Linked DNA regions of Homo sapiens. The protein of the gene in region 1 purifies or fractionates together with the protein of each later gene. This does not show direct contact. Each region holds a gene or a part of one and is shown in the gene's direction. Other genes may lie near its edges. The genes, in order: SLC25A12 and NNT.

Evidence for each region.
Region 2: the proteins of SLC25A12 (region 1) and NNT fractionate together in Homo sapiens (co-fractionation; one large-scale study listed by BioGRID). This does not show direct contact.

What each region holds. Positions count from the first base shown.
Region 1 is NC_000002.12:171,789,434-171,793,457, reverse strand, and holds part of SLC25A12 (electrogenic aspartate/glutamate antiporter SLC25A12, mitochondrial), read left to right. Parts: intron 1-1,868; coding exon 1,869-2,007; intron 2,008-4,024. UniProt on the Homo sapiens protein: Mitochondrial electrogenic aspartate/glutamate antiporter that favors efflux of aspartate and entry of glutamate and proton within the mitochondria as part of the malate-aspartate shuttle.
Region 2 is NC_000005.10:43,609,680-43,613,260, forward strand, and holds part of NNT (NAD(P) transhydrogenase, mitochondrial), read left to right. Parts: intron 1-3,228; coding exon 3,229-3,458; intron 3,459-3,581. UniProt on the Homo sapiens protein: The transhydrogenation between NADH and NADP is coupled to respiration and ATP hydrolysis and functions as a proton pump across the membrane. May play a role in reactive oxygen species (ROS) detoxification in the adrenal gland.

The sequences.
Region 1 (4,024 bases):
ACATGCAGCCTCTCCTGTTGTCATCAGGCTTTTATGAAACTGCCAGCAAGGAGGCCAGCACCGCAGACCTGCTGGCCTCAGGCTCACAGCCTTTCATTTGCTGGGGGGCTTGGGAAAACTTTCCCTGGTGCTCTCTTTGGGTTGGTTTAGGGCTTCAAAATAGTCTTATGTTTATTTTCGGTCTGATTATCTCTATTGTTATCTTCCCAGTGGGAGCTTTTGTCTTAATAATTTGACCACAGTAAAACAGTAGTAGAGTTTGGTAGGATTCAGGTCTTTAAGAAGTTAAGTGGTAGGATTTGTCAATAATGAATTCCATTAAAAAAAAAAAAAACAAACCAACAACAGAGTGTACTGTACTTTAACAAAATGCCAGTCAAAAGATTCCTTCCCTGCGGGTATACTTACTCCCATCATTACAGATCAGATGTAATGGAGCAGAAGCTATTATTTTTCTTAAACAAGGAAGAATATTTCTTTCCATTCCTTTGCCTGGTATAAGGGGAATACGTAAATTTAGCCACCATAGCCAAGTGTGTTTCCACAGCATCTGATATAGATCCATCACTGCAGAAATGTGTAAATTTGTTTCGGTAACTGCAAATTAGAAATTAGAAATTCTCTAGATTGGAATCACACAGCTACAGGGTTCTCTGGAGACCAGCAAACAATGATGCCTGTCTCAAGAGAGTTTCGTACACATTTTTGCTTCCTCCTCCCCACTCCCAATTTCCATCCTTTTTGAATTCCCTTTGAGAGATGAATTTATTAATATTGCTTCTCTCTGTATTATCCTTTAGCGAGTCCTTGGATTTTTTTTTTTTCAATGTTTGAGTTTGTCTTTTTTTAAAAAAGCCAGGGCTGGGAGCACTGGCTCACACTTGTACTCTCAGCACTTTGGGAGGCCAAGGCAGGGGGATTGCTTGAGCCCAGGAGTTCAAGACCAGCCAGGGCAAAATAGCAAGACCTTGTGTCTACCTTAAAAAAAAAAAAGAAAGAAAAAATTAGCCGGCACAGTGGTGCACACCTATCATCCCAGCTACTCAGGAGGCTGAGGTGGGAGGATCACTTGAGCTCAGACGGTCAAGGCTACAGCAAGCTGTGATCCTGCCACTATGCTCCAGCCTGGGCAACATAGTGAGACCCTGTCTCAGAAAAAAAAAAAAATTAAAAAGAATAAAACAGAGTCATTAAAAAAACAAGCGCCAAGGTGGAGTGTTTGCCTAGCTAGGTAGTGGAATGGTGTGGGCTTCTGACAAAGCTGAGGGAGGTGTTCTTTGAGACCTCAGTCATTGGGACAAGCTGCCCCTGGGTAATGATTTTCTACTCCTGTGGAAACCTGCCGCTAAAATATTTTGTCTGCTATTTAGGACATGGGGAATGAGGAGAGAAGATTTGGGTTTCTTTTCCCCCTGCTCTAGAGTAGTTACTTTTCCTTCACCACTGCCTATAGCTTTTTACCTGGCACTGCGGGGACTCTCAGCTGATGTAAAAACTTAAGAGGGTAGATCTTGTGTGTTTTTACCATAGTAAGAGATTAATTAATTTTAAAAACTCTGAATCTATATAAGAAATGCCAGAAAGTTCTTAGTTTTCAGAATACTATCATTACCCAGTTATTAACTCTAGGACTGCAGGATTCACCATGCTTTCACAAGCTTTGAGATATGCAGATTTCCCTATTCCCCACTTATCTCCCGCCTCCCCCATTTCCCTTGCACATCAGTTCTAATGCTGTTTAAGGGACACCTCAGGCTTGTCACTGAGGGACACCTCAAGCTTGTCACTGACAAATGTCACATGGATCCCATTTGGGCATTCACACTCAGTTTCACACTGTTTTGCACTATTTCCTCACTGTGTGACAGGGTGCCAAAGCGTGTTTCCTCCGAGACATTCCCTTCTCTGCAATCTATTTTCCTGTTTATGCTCATTGCAAACTACTTCTGGCTGATGAAAATGGACACGTGGGAGGTTTAAATCTTCTTGCAGCTGGAGCCATGGCAGGTAACTACAAATTTTTTTTTAACTGAAAGAATTCTCCCATTATTTAAAAAGTACAGAATCTCTATGTACTTTCCCCCTTTATTTCTGGAAGTATTATTGTTTGTACCTGACTTAGTTTAAATATCACTTTTTCTCCTTTGTGGGATGTGCTGTAATTCTGATGAGAGTTAATTACATTTGCATAATGTGGATAAACAGCTTAATGCAGCTTAGCAACTCAGAGCCAAATTAGATCTGCCCATCTAAATTGGGCTTTCATCATTAACATGTTTCTTAGTTTCCTGTGCCCCTGAAACCTTGAGTACAGCCAAGCTAAGCATTAAGGTGGGAAAGTTTTTCCTCAAATCAGTTGCTTAGCTGTATCTCATGCTCATGCACAGATCTAGCATGCTCTTACTTTCTCTCTTCTGTATATTGGAATCTACATGATTTGGCCGAAAATTGAGCTTTTGTCGTGAAGCTGTCCCTCTTCTTCCTACCATTGCCCTCATTAGACCAAAGTAAGCAGTACCCCTCAGCAAACCACCTTGAACTCAATTTTTGTATTTTTTCTAATCGTTAACACTTTGTCATTAGCCAGGTGTAGTGGTGCGTGCCTGTAGTCCCAGCCAGCTACCCGGGAGGCTGAGGTGGGAGGATCACCTGAGCCTGGGAGGTCAAGGCTGCGGTGAGCCGAGATGACACCACTGTACTCCAGCCTGGGTGACAGAGTGAGAGCTTGTCTCAAAAAAAAAAAAATTTGTCTTTTATTAATAGTTATTTGCATAATTGTTATCCTCTGTACTAGGCTAATAGCTTCTTGAGGGCAAGAGTTTCATTCTCTTCATCCTTGCCTTTCCTACGTGGCCAGTGTAATAGTAATAGGTGCTCAATAAATGTCAATAACATGAATGAAAACCTTCATGTCGTCTAAGATACCAAATTAGGCACAGAAGAGATTTCATTTGAAAGAGGAGCCTTGTAAGAGCAGGGAGGTACTAAGATGCTTCCTTCTGACCTCATAGGTACAGCCTGACTCTTGAGTTAGGAAGGAGCTGACTTGGAATAGAAGGAGAGAACCAGGTGTCCTTGGCTGCACCAACACTCTGAAAAGACAAAGGAAGGAAGGGGTGCATGTTTGCTCTCTATACAACCAGTAATGAACCATTACAGAGCTCAGTGTGGCTCTGACCAGCCAGGCTTATGTTCACTGTGTTGCTCTTCCTTGCTGGGCTCATTCTCCTCTGGAGGCTCTGGCTAAACATCAGGGCAACCTGAGCAGCTCCCGGAGTGTGCTGTGCTTGTTGTGTGGTAGGAGCCCTTGGGCCTGAGAGTGTTGCGATGGACCACGTTGTTCTTGCTCGTGAAGACAGGGATGACTTTGATCATTAAGAAACGGCCCCAGGGAACTTACCGCCCTTATTTGGGGCCCAGCAAGTCCTTTCTCCTCTAGCAATGGTAATTTTAGTCAGTTTTGTGTTTAAAAGCCAGTAAAGTTACCTGCTCAGTCTTGGCAGTGAGCTGTTTGTAGCAGCCCCTTTCTGGTACTTACCAGTCTCCCACTTTTTTTTTTTTGGTGAGACAGAATCTTGCTCTGTCACCCAGGCTGGAGTGCAGTGGTACAATCTCTGCTCACTGCAACCTCTGCCTCCCGGGTTCAAGCGATTCTCCTGTGTCAGCCTCCCAAGTAGTTGGGACTACAGGCGTGTACCACCATGCCTGGCCAATTTTTGTATTTTTAGTAAAGACAGGGTTTCACCATGTTGGCCAGCACAGCTGGTCAGAGCCACACTGAGCTCTGTAATGGTTCATTACTGGTTGTATAGAGAGCAAACATGCACCCCTTCCTTCCTTTGTCTTTTCGGAGTGTTGGTGCAGCCAAGGACACCTGGTTCTCTCCTCCTTTTCCAAATCAGCTCCTTCCTAACTCAAGAGTCAGGCTGAGGCCGAGCTTGGTGGCTCATTCCTGTAATCCCAGCACTTTGGGAGGCCAAGGCGGGCAGATCACGAGGTCAGGAGATCGAGACCATCCTGGCTA
Region 2 (3,581 bases), on another chromosome or scaffold:
ATACAGCTCATCTATGCTCAGGAATTAGGAATTAAGTATATTAATTGGTCTACATTAATGCTTTCCAATTTAGTTAGTAGCAATTTGATTGCAGTTGCTCAGGTCAGAAACCCTGGAGTCATTCTACATCCTCCTAGTAGGTATAGGTCAGCTCCATCTCATATCTACAAACTGTCCTCTTCTTGCCATTGCTACTTTTATCATCTTGGTCCAAGCCATCGTCATCTGTCACCTGTACTGATGCACCAGTCTTCTAAATGTCTCTGTGCTTTTTACCTCTGCCCCCTACAGTCTGTTCTGCACAGGACAGTGAGAATAATCTTTTTAAAATGTACAGTCATGTCACTCCTCAATTCAAAATTTGCCACTTGCTTCCTAGCTCTTACAGAGGAAGATCTGAAGTCTTCCAGTGGCCTACAAGGCCTTCCCTGATAGAATGTCTCCTTGCTTCTGTTCTGGGGTACAGGCCAGAAGGAGGAGAGGCTAAAAAGGGGCCCTTCTAAACCAAGTCAACTGTCTGTCTTTTTTTTTTTTTTTTTTTTTTAAGCAGCAGCAAGATTTATTGCAAAGAGCGAAAGAACAAAGCTTCCACAGAATGGAAGGGGACCCGAGCAGGTTGTCCCCCAAGTCAACTCTCTTTCATCAGTCTTGCCCAAAGATCATCCCAGTACTTCTGTCACTTCACCTCACTGTCCAGAACTCAGACATGTAGCTGTAAGGGAGACTTGGACATTTTGCTGTAAGGGAGACTTGGACATTTTGTCTTTTATTCTAGATGGCAATGTACCCAGCTAAAAATGGCATTTTCTTATTAAGGTGAAGGAACAGGATGGATATTTTGGGGGGCAACCTTTGTCACCTAGAATAATGCCCTCTTTTGTTTTTTAAGTTTGTAGGACTGTTTGTGGATTCATTAAGGACCTCTAAACTGCTAGGTGTTTTGAGATCTTATGTCTGCCTTGAATAGATTTTATAGCCTCTTTTCTTGTTCTCAGATGACAAGTCACAATTGGCAGGGTATCTGTCCCTACAAGCCTCCAACTTTATCTTCAGATGCTTTCTTTTAAATTGCTCTGGAAAGCCAGATTATCCTGGTGATAAAATTGTGTATAAAATAAAGGTAAATAACTGTTGAAGACATGAAAACTGTCCTTGTGAGTAAATCCATGGACATCAAGATCTCTATATTGATTATGTATAAGACATTTTTGTTTAATTTCTGGTTCTTCACTATTTCCTAATTATTTTTATCTCTGAAAGATAAGAAGTCTATTTTTTCCTTAATATAACCATAAGTTCATTACCATATTGAAAAGTGTAGTAAGTAATTCCAGCTACAGTCAGTATTCATATTTTTTCAATTGCTTTCTTGCTTCTTTCCTTCCTTCTTTCCTTCCTCCCTCCCTCCCTCCCTGCCTCCCTCCCTCCCTCCCTCTTTTTCTTTACAGTTGGCTTGTTCAAAGAGTGATCCAAACAGGGTCCACACATTGTATTTGCTATGTCTCTTTTGTCTCTTTTTATCTATAAGTTCCCCTCTCTTTATTCCTTTTAATATACTGAAGAATTTCATTGTTGCTCTGTAGAATTAACAACATTCTAGGTTTGGCTGATTGAATCCTCTTGGTATTGTTTAGCCAGTTTCTCTGTCCCTTGTATGTGCTTAAATTATCTCTTATTTGGTCAGTGGAAGCCCTTTCAAATTGGCTTCTAAATCCTTTTGACATGGCTTCAGTCATCTTTGGTAGCTTCCTTGCTTTTGCCATGTAGAGCCTGACAATTTGAGGTTGTCAGCTAAGTGAACTTGAGATGAGTGTATGTGATTGAGCTTTGTATGTCAATCCAAATATTTGCCAGCTTTCTATTATTTTCCTCCTTCTCCTTCCAGTAAGGAGTAAGATTCAGCATTATTTGCCTTTCGTGTACTGTAAATTATTACTATATAGGTAGTGTGGAATCTAAGACAGTGTTCAAATTCAGGTCTAGGTTGACTTAATTTCTCTAAGGTCTTACTTAATAAGTTACTTTGTAGGGATAATTTCATTCATTTTGAAATTATACATATTCAGATCTTAGGTTGCAAGAATGGGTTTCCTAAGCTTTAATAAACCTTATATAGAAACAGATACTCTTCATTAAAAAATGTTTATGCTGCATATTAAGTAAAACATCAGGAGAAACTGATGTCCTGTAGCTAAAGATGGTCTGAACCATATCTAAATATAAGATTGTACTATATAGGCTTTTTTGGGTTGCAAGGAACAGAATCACATCAGATTATATTTTGTGATGAGGGTTTGCTATGTGGATTCTTGGCAAGTGTGAGAGCCCAGAAACCCCCCATCTACTCCTTGGATAAGTGGAATGTTATTTGTAGAATTCATGGCTGTGACCCATCTTCTCTCTTTAAATATCTACTACTGATGTTTCTATCACTGTTACTGCTGACCTCCCTTTGATTACCTCATAGCTGTGCTTACAAATAATATTTGCACTGATCTACTCTCCTTGTCCCTCTCTGTGGGTCTCCCATTTAAACTCCTTGAGAGAGAACCCAGTGGGTTGAGTAGTCACTGGCCAACATAGAGCGTCCTTGGACAGAGTTCCTGTCTAAGTCATCTTATAAGGTGCAGCTGCTAGTTTTCCTTGTCTGCCCTGTAGATGATTGTCCTTGACACAGTTGCTGATCCCTTGTCTAAGTGGCTGAGTGTGTAGAGTCTTAAGATACAACACTTAGAAATTTATGAGGCATTGTGTGTGGCCAAATTGCCTGGAAGGGAACTTTGAGTGTGGCAGGCCATCAAAGTGTCTAGGATACAGTTGTTCTTCAAAATAGCTAATTACTTCCAATTTTGTTAAAAGTAAGGGCAAGGAGACCATAACCTTGCCCTTAGTTTGAAGAATGGAGTCAGCATGTGGAGGGATCTCTAAACCCATTTTTTTTTCTCCTACAAATCAACTAAGCTTGTTATATTCCTTGAAGAAAGCCAATTGATTAAATAAAATATTTAGAAGTTTCAGAAGAGTAGGCATAAAAGTTTCTTATAATCTACCACAAAAGTCAAAGAATTATAAGTATGAATCAGGAACATCATTCTGAACAGCAGCTTGCATGTGTGGTATATTTTGAAGAAAAGATTGCTCCTTTCAATTTTCTGAAATCTGTTTTTAAACATTTTTTGTTTGTTTTTTTACCAAATATATATTTTTTTTGCCTTTGCTTGTTTCTAGGAATTCCATATAAGCAACTGACTGTTGGAGTCCCCAAAGAGATATTCCAAAATGAGAAGCGAGTGGCATTGTCTCCTGCTGGTGTTCAGAACTTGGTCAAGCAGGGTTTTAATGTTGTCGTGGAATCGGGTGCGGGCGAAGCTTCCAAGTTCTCAGATGATCACTATAGAGTGGCAGGTGCCCAAATCCAAGGGGCAAAGGAAGTGCTGGCTTCTGATTTGGTGGTCAAAGTAATTATTCCTTTTTCCTCTCCCATTTACAGCATGCTGACTTTTTGAAATCTTTTCATAGAAAAATTAAATTACTTTATCTGGAGTTACACCTTTTCCTATTTTCAAACAGTGTATTTTTCT